Regions from separate parts of the Homo sapiens genome. Here region 2 is linked to region 1. The links come from fine-mapping of genetic effects on gene expression. A gene starts in region 1. The other region holds a variant in brackets. All regions are shown on one strand. Distances are from middle to middle.

Evidence for each region. PIP is the estimated chance that this variant, and not a neighbour inherited with it, causes the effect.
Region 2: its variant is fine-mapped to the expression of SNAPC4 in whole blood (TOPMed, PIP above 0.99).

What each region holds. Positions count from the first base shown.
Region 1 is chr9:136,397,985-136,402,295 of GRCh38, forward strand. SNAPC4 (small nuclear RNA activating complex polypeptide 4) reads right to left here and starts at 2,186. Exons shown (of 24, transcript NM_003086.4): 1 at 2,150-2,186; 2 at 315-453. The coding sequence starts at 444. ENTR1 (endosome associated trafficking regulator 1) reads right to left here. Exons shown (of 10, transcript NM_001039707.2): 10 at 3,938-4,311. RefSeq lists enhancers at 1-669, 2,399-3,335 and silencers at 1,844-1,953, 2,024-2,153, 2,224-2,433, 2,584-2,633.
Region 2 is chr9:136,361,641-136,365,934 of GRCh38, forward strand. It overlaps DNLZ (DNL-type zinc finger), which reads right to left and starts at 2,104. Exons shown (of 3, transcript NM_001080849.3): 1 at 1,847-2,104; 2 at 1,349-1,488; 3 at 1-540. The coding sequence starts at 2,074. The coding sequence ends at 372. CARD9 (caspase recruitment domain family member 9) reads right to left here. Exons shown (of 13, transcript NM_052813.5): 11 at 3,501-3,577; 12 at 2,843-2,919; 13 at 2,316-2,761. The coding sequence ends at 2,662. It overlaps LOC124902309 (a long non-coding RNA gene), which reads left to right and starts at 1,729. Exons shown (of 2, transcript XR_007061863.1): 1 at 1,729-1,812. RefSeq lists silencers at 1,460-1,739, 1,840-2,339, 2,370-2,469 and enhancers at 2,681-3,571, 3,572-4,294. The variant G/A (reference allele first, on the strand shown) is at 1,811.

The DNA of each region.
Region 1 (4,311 bases):
GTCAGAAGCTCTCTGGCTGGAGTACAGAAAGACACCAGTGTTGGCAAAAAATTGGGTCTGGTCCAAGCAGCACCAGCCATCGTTTATTATTATTATTATTATTTTTAGAGACAGGGTCTTGCTGCGTTGTCCAGGCTGGACATGAACTCCTGGGATCAAACAATGCTCTCACCTCAGCCTCAGGAGTCCCTGGGTTTACAGGCCTGAGAAACCACACCCGGCTACCATCACTCCCTAATGTGCCTGAGAGGAACCCAGGAGGCAGACCAGCTGTTCTTACCAGGACCCCAGGAGGCTAGGTACAAGGGGCTTACCTGCTTCAGAATCTGACTCGAGACTTGATTCTGAGATCTCCACGTGGGAGCCCGAGGAGCCGGGATCCAAAATCCTTTCCAGCTCCTTGATCTCCTGTGTTATCTTCTCTCTTTCAGCATCTACATCCATGACTCCCGCCTGCCTCCAAAACACACCCCGAGATGTTAGAAACCAAGACCGTGCCGGGATCCCATTCTCCTTCAGACACACCCGCCCATGGGGGATGGCAGGAGCCTGCTCGGCAGTGGGCACTGGGCTCCCCAGAGAAAGATTAATAGGCCAGGCACAGAATCGGGGAACCCTGGGACAGGAACCTCAGACCCCACAAACTCCTGCTATGTGCTCTGCCAGGAGCCTAAGCCCCAAGAACATCTCCCGCCTGCTCTGAGGCTGCAACCAGCACAGGCAGGGAGTGGATGAACAAGGACAGGCCCCACTGTCCCGTCTCTGCTCCCACACCAAGCCACATGGAAACTGGCCACCCAGCGTAGAAGGTGTGGGGTGCAGTGGCAAAGTCACTACAGGGCAAGGACACAGCCCGTGACCCACTTTGGCCATCCTGCTCTCCCATGACACAGAGCCGGACCACAGAGGGCATTTGAGAAACGTTCACAGAGACACACACTGAGACTGCCCAGGTGGCAGGCACTAACAGCATGGTTGGGAAGGAAGCTCCCAAAGGGAAGGCTGGCTGTTCTCTGTACATCCAGAACAACGCCTGGAACGTGGCAGTGCCTGACACTAACAAATGTTTGTCAAGCTTTTTTCTTAGGAACTGTGGTCCAGGAAGTCTGAAGGGAGAAGGACGCTAGAGAGAGAGTGGGAGAATGAAACATTAGCAGAGAAAATCTAAAGGAATCACTAGCACAGACCCGGGAGCCCAAAACACCCAACAACAAAGAGAAACGCCCTCCCCCGTCCTTGGCGTGGCTCTCCCTGCTGGAGGCTGACTGGGGCCCTGCCCAACTGGAACAAAACCAAAGCATCCACCCGCGAGCACCGTTAGCCGCATCAGCAGCCCAGGTCCCCTCACTCCTTCACAAAGCCCCTTGTTTATGCCCGAAATGCTTGTGAACCTGTAAACTCAGTTAACAGCCGGCCAGAGGCAGAGCTGGCAGCGACCGCAGGCTGGTTCAGCGCCTCCGGGCCGGCGGAGACGCTTTCCTCTGGAAGCCTCACACGAGGCTGCTGCCTCCCCCTCCCCGTGTCGCTCAGGTGAGCAATGATCAGCAGGAAGGAGGTCAAAGTCACACGTGCTGAGCCACTGACATCAGGGGCTGTCCCTCTCCCCGCACCCCTCTCCCAAGGGCTGGTCATGAGGGCTGCCCACCAAGACGGAGCGCAGCAGGCGGTCCCTCCAGCCCCAGCTGCGGGGACGCCACCCAGACTCGGCTGGGCCCAGGGAACCCCAGGATGCGCCAGGACGATGGGCGTTTAGGCACTGGCTTGGGAGACAGACCCGGCCCAGGCCCAGTTCCGCCTCCTGCTCGCTGCGTGAACTGGGGAAACCCCCTCCGAGGCTCGGCCACCGCGGAATCGCCGGCGCAGTCCCCGAGACGCACGCGGGCGCCCTGCAGCCGGGGCCGCCCCGCCGGAGCCTCCTCGGAGCCCGCAGCCCGCTCCCAGCCGAGGGGCTCCCAGGGCCAGAATCCCCGCGCGCCCAGGCTCGGCCGGACGGGGGCCACGCCGGGCCTCAGTTTCCCCGACTTTGGGCGCTGCCCCGCCCCCGTCCCGGGCCTCGGCTATCCGCTCCTCGGGACAGCGCCCCCTCCACGGGGAGAGCCCTGAAGCTGCCGACGCCACCCGCGCCTCACCTGCTGGGCGCACACCTTACCTGGCCGCGCGGACCCCGCCGTCGCCCGGGCGACTGCAGACTCGACGCTTCCGGCGGCTGCAGAACAAGAGCGCCGCGCGCCGGAAGTCCCGCCTCCTGAGGCGCGGGGCACGCCGGGACGGCCGCTGCGGCCTGCCGGGACTAGAGAGGCGAACGGCTCGATGCTGCCCTCGCGCGGCCGCCCTGGGGGCCGCCTCCGCGCGCTCTGGAGGGGCGCGGGTGGACGCGGGACCTCAAGGCAGGGGACAGACAGGGACAGGCACCCGGCCACCTGGTCACGATCCGGAAGACCGGCCCTTACTGGCTGTGACCTTCGGCCATCGCTGGACCTCTCTGTGCTTGTTTCATCCTCTGTTAACGGACATGTTGGGGTTTGGTTAAGCAACGGATGAGAAAGTCTACGTGAAAGGCTTTTTCCCCAGCCTGCCCTGCATGCTCAGGATCGCCGAGGCCAGGCCGATCTCCAGGCACGTGCAGGAGACTGAGGCCAGAGGGTGGGGGCCCGCACCACACAAACTCGCTTCCCTGGTCACCTGTGCACACCCTCTGGGGTCTCCTGGCCTGGAGAGCTGCCCCGGGGCCCTCCCCTAAGTGGGCATTCATTCCTTCAGGAACGTGCCAGGGCTAACTCGGCCGGGAGCTGGGCAGGGGCCTACAGTTCCTGGCTCCTGAGAGCTTCTAAGTATCGGTGCTGCAAAGACATCCTGGGCCCAGCCAGTTGAGGGGGCCTCCACTCCAGCCTGGGGTGAGCTAGGGGCATCAGCTGGAGAACTATAAAGAGGGTTTGCCCTGCCTACCTAGGAGGTGGGCTTTTGGTGGCAAAGGGCTAGGCCCAGGTGAGGCCAAACTGGGAGCTAGGGATTGGCAAGAAACAGATGGAGGGGATGGAACCAGGCGGCTGGGGGCTCCTCGAGCGCCTCGTTTCAGTCCCTGCATCGGGCTTGAAATCTGGAGGCAGAAGGCAGGCACTAAATACCGCGCCACAAATTGTATTTTTAAACTTCTTACTATCAAACGCTTCAAACACAGACATCAAAAGAGAGGGGTGCGCAAAACCCACATGCCCATCCCCACCGCGCTTCCCTGGGCCCCACCTGCTCCATGAGCTGCTGGCATGAGGGCCAGGGGACCACCCCACTTCACACGCATCTGGTGGATGGGACCCGCCTGGCGATCTGGCCTTTGTGACCCCCACCCCATCAAATGCTGTCTCTCCCAAAGGGCCTCAGGGAAGGCCTGTGGCCTGAGGCATCCTCCCCAGATGCCCCCATCCTGCTGCTACAGGGCTCCCAGAGCTGCCTATACACTCAGAACCTCATTCCGGCACTTCCCAACCACAGCACCCTGTCTCAAGTCAGCTCTGCCAACAGAATCCAGAGCCTGCTTTCACCAACCAGCAGGAGCAGGAGGCGCATAGGGCTACGCAGCAGGACCGCTCCACAGTGACTGCTGGAAAGCTCTGGCCTTCACCTGTAGCTAAGGCTAGGGGTCTAGCAATTCAGACGCCTTGTTTGAAAAATTCAACCACATGATCCGAAAAGATGATCCAATGCTAGAATCCAGTCTGTCCAGCTCTGAAACGTGCAGCTGCGTGACTCACACGTCCATCACGTGTGGGTCCCAGTGGTCAGGCCCAGGCAGCAGTGGTCTGAGTCTGCCCCTAACCCCAAGGGCTGAGGACCTGGAGAGAATCTGCCAGCACAAGGCACCAGTTAGGGCAAGAGCAAGTGAGGTGTGGAAGCCCACGGCGTTCTCCAAGGACTGGCTAAGTCAGCAGAGAAGAGACAGTGCGGTGAACTACAGAATTTATTAAATAAGAAAGCTATCAATTGGAACAGGAGGAAAAAAAAGTTTTAAAAAAAATCTATAGGAAAATAGTCAAAAAAGCATTTAGTGCTCATCGCCGTCCCTCTGAGGGGGGCCGTCAGAAAGGCAACTGGGACCTGACAGACCCGGGCACATACTTGAAATTCCTGAATTCTAACCTGCATTGTACAAAATGCCACTTGAAACGTCCACCAGAACCCCCAGCCAAAGAGGCACATCTGGACAGCTTCACAGCACGGAACGTGTGACCTTGGTCCCCGTGGGTCCCGGAGGAGGACAGCAGCAGCCACGCGGTGGCCCCTGCGCACTCAGGCCATGACTGCAGGGACCACCCA
Region 2 (4,294 bases), 36 kb before region 1:
AGGAAGGCTGAGGCTCACAGGGGTGGTGACCTGCTCAAAGTCACGCAGCGACAGCCAGGAAGGGCTCTGACGCCACATCCAGCCCCCTTTCCACGCGACTGTGGCCTCTGTGGGCAAGAGCTGGGTGACTCTGTGTAGAAGGAACTGTGGTGAGGCGAGAGGTCCTGCGGCTCCTATGTCCCACCCAGCAGCACCAGGGATTCAGAGCAATCGTTCTAACTCCAGAAAAAGAAAGGCCACGAGGGCCACAGGCCCCAGCATCTGGAAGTAATGTCTGTTTATTGATAGAAAACAGGCCACGTCCAGAGAGGCCCAGGGCCAAAACCTCCTTCTGGAAGGCCGAAGTCCCACAGTGCCGGGGAGCGCAGGAGTCAGCTCGGCTCCGTCTTGCCAGGGCTGGGGGGACCCTCATCCTCACCCGCTTCCGGAGCTGCAGTGGATGTGGGGGCCCCTGCAGCCTCCAGAACCAGTTCCAGGGCCCCCTCGCCCGCCACACGGTGCACCTGCTCGCCTCTGGCCGTCAGGATCTCTTCGATATTTCTGGGGGGCAGGGAGGCAACATGGCTCTTCAGGGCCCCCCAGCCGCCCTGCACTTCAGTCCCCTCAGGGCGCCCCATGGCCAGGCCAGAGCTGCAAGCACCAGGCCCAGCACTCCTGTGGCATCAGGCCACACGGGCACTTCAGACGCTGGCCTGTGTGCCCTCACCAGCCCTGTGTCTCTGCCGGTATGCGCCGCCTCAGGAACCCAGTCTCCTGCTCCTGCCCCCTATGTGCCAGAGGGAAGAATCTGCAGCCCCGGGTCTGATGGGAGGACAGTCCCAGCTCCAAGGGCCAGGTACCACCAAGCACCTGGCATGCTGGTCTCAGACCTGCTGTCGCTGTTACTGTCCTGCCCAGGACCTCCCGGCCAGGCAAGGCCCGGACCAGGCTCCCGGCACCACCTCCACTGCTCTCCCAGCAGCCAGGGCCCAGGCCACACCTCCTGGTCCACACCCCAAGCCTTGCTGTGGGCCAGCCACCCCAAGATGGCAGAGGGCAAAAAAGTTCCACGCTAGAGAGGGACAAGGCTGCCAGTGATGGCAGAGGGCAGGCAGAGGCAGGGAGGCAGGGCCACAGGGCTGGCAAAATTTAACAAATAAAAACGCACCCCCTACTTGGGGCATACTTAAACTCAAAAGCTATCTGGGCTTTATAGGAAATTCTCATTTAACTGTGTGTCTTGTATTGATAAGGTGGCTGGATTTCCCAGGTGAGATCTATAAACCTCAACACTAGGGCAAGGTTCCCCCAGGGAGGCCAGGGTACTTCTGGGTGGCCTTCTGGCCCAGCCCTGGGGTACAGGCCTCACCTCTTCCCATTCAGGTCCGAGAACCAGCCCAGGTTGTCAGCGATGATATGGTGGTTCTGGCAGCCGGGGCAGGTCACAATGACCACGCCTTGGTGATAGGCCAGCTTGGAGATGCGCTTGGAGGACCTAGTCCCGCAGACCTGGCTGGGACAGGGTAGCTGGTGAGGCTGTGAGGGCCGCCACGCCCCTCCCGGGAAGACCCGCCCCTCTAGGGGTAGCTCCAGCCACCTCACCCTCTCCAGAGAAGGCCCCGCCCCCGAGGGATAGCTCCACCCACCCCCAACCTCGCCCTCTCCCGGGAAGGCCCCGCCCCAGGGACGGCTCCACCCCTCCTCATGGTCCGCCTCCGCTCCCTCCCAGAAGCCCCAAGGGGTGGCTCCACTCCTTCCTGTGACTTGACCACGCCGCCTCCCGGATCCCCGGCGGGCCGCTTCTCCCCGCAGGCCGTGTAGCGTCAGATAC[G/A]GGTCTGTCCCCGGTTCCGTCCCGCCGCGCGCCTACCTTGCAGGTGTAGACGAGCTGGTAGTGCGCCGCCTCCACGCGCCCCAGAGCCGCCGCGGGCCCCGGCCCCTGCTCGGAGCTTGAGCGCCGCCAGCCCCAGGCCCAGGCCCGCCGCCTCCCCGCGACCTCTGGACGGGCCCCGCGGCCCCACAGCCGCCTCAGGCAGGGCGCCCGGGGCTGCACGCGACTCAGCAACCTCGGCGCGCCGCGCAGCGCAGTCCGCAGCATCCCGCTCGCCGGCTCCGTCCGCCCTGCCCCGGCCCCGCCCCGCCGCCATCTTGGAAGTGGGCGCCGGGCGGAAGCGGCGTTCTTGGGCTTCCGTCTTCCGGGTCGGGGGCGCGCTGCGCTATGCCGCCCCCTGGCGGCCTGAGGGGGCCCTGCGTCCACGTGCAGCTCGCACCCCGAGGACACCGCGGGCCGCAGCGAGGAGGGACGGCCGCGGGGCTGCGCGCGAGTGTCCGAGCGGGAATGCGGGTCACCCGTGCTGTTTATTTACGCAGCTGTGTTTTCTAACACTAATACAATGCATGCATGTATTGTGTGTTACATGGTGAAACAGAACAGATCCTGAAGTTACACAGATGGCGTGTGCATGGGGGTGGTGAGCACCCGCATGGCCTCCGCAAAATGAGTGCCGCTTAACAAACGGCCCCAATGCCCGGCAGTCCGGCTGGGCCTTTCAGGGCACCAGATTCCTCGTTCCAGGCCAAGTCAGCGACGGCTCGGGGAAGTCTGCGCCCCAGGGCGTCGGCACCCCCGGGTGGCAGGAGGCCGGGCCGGTGGGTGTGCCCTGGTCGGGGCCTGCGCTGCTGCGGCTAGGAGCCCTCAGTGTCGGTGTTGTCGCTGCCCGTGGTGTTCTCCCGGTCCTCCTCCCCCTGCCGCCATCCTTTCTGCATCTTCCTGAGGGCGCGCTTCCTGTGAAGACAGGTGTCTCAGGCGCGACCCGGCTGCCGCTCCCCAGCCCGTTTTGGAGAAGCCTGGGGGCCGCCCGCCTACCTGCGGTAGTTCTCAAAACTCTCTTTGAGGCGCCGCCGCTCCTTCTCGGGCGGCTCCCCGCTGCTCAGGCCTGCGTCCTGGAGAAGGGGGAAGGCTCGGGCTCCGGCCGGCTCCCCTGAGGGAACCCGTCCTTCTCACCCGCCCCCCACTGGCCCCTGTAACTGCAGACTGGTTGGGAGGCGAGGAGCCCAGACAGCCTCAGCTCAGCGCCAAGCTCTCCCTGTGGGACCTGCCTGTACCCCTGGAGGTGAGCCGGTGTGGGTAGCCTGCATTTCAGATGCCAAGACACACCCAGGAGGCCAAGCCACGGCTCCAGCCTGGGGTCCGGGCCATTGTTTCTACAACAAAGCCCGAGGTGGTGCTTGCTCTCAGGACTCCTGTGTTCACCTCCTCATCCACTGTAAAGGCCCTCGGAAAACCAGGACCAGGCACATCCACGTCCAAAAAGCCCCCCAAGCTGCTGCAGTGCCCAAGAAAGGGGGATCCACTTCGCAGCCCAGACACCGCACCCCGAGCACTGTGGGCAGAGACCTTGTGGTCACTCCTCAGCTGTCGTCGGGGCCACCGCAGGGGGTGCCCAGGGCAGGGAGCCACTCTCCCTGTGATCGGTCACCCTGAGGCCCACGGCTGGGAGGACCCCACCCCGGGGAAGCCTTACATGGGGGTTCCGCAAAACCTGCTCCTGGTGCAGAGCTGCAAAGGGCTGTTTCGGGCTCCCCCCGCCGGCAAGGCAGCCTGGAAAGGAGAGTCGTGCCTGTGGGACCTGCCCATCTGCTGGGCCACGTATAGCACGGCTGCCCCACCCCTCCCCGGCATTGCAGTGGGGCTGTCTTCCAAGGCCTGGTGGGATCCCCACATGGGTCCAGTGTAGACTCTGCTTTCTGTAGATGAGACTGAGGCCTTATGGCCTCGCTTGCCTGTTCATTGCTCCAGGAGGCCGCCAGATGCCAGCCCAGGCCCAACGCTCCCGCCAGTGACCATCCCTCCCCCGAGCTGGCTGCCTGCCAGGGAGGAACGCCTCCCAGACCTCGGGGGAACTTAAACCCTGGGCCTGAGCAGCACCGTCCCCCATCACTCCAAAGCATCTGTGGGCATGGCGGCCCTGGGGAGAGAGTTGGGGACAGCTACAGTGGCTGTCTGGGTCCTCCTGAAGTGGGGGCAGGGGTACTGCAGCAATTGGGAGAGAACCTTCAGGCGGCTGGACCCCCTCAGAAACCGCCAGGACCTGGGCAGACCAGGGATCAGGACCCTTGGGCAGAAACCACGCACGTCCAGTCTCAGCCCCACTGCGGTGAGGGCCAGGCCAGGGCTGTCCTGGCCATTGGCAGCCCCTTAGAGCCAGCCCCTCCCCTGCTCACCCTCCAACCTTCACACCTGCCCCTGCTCCTGCCACAGCCACCCAGGGGGATGGGGGCAGTGCCTGAGCCGGACTCCTGGGTCCTGCTCGCCTCT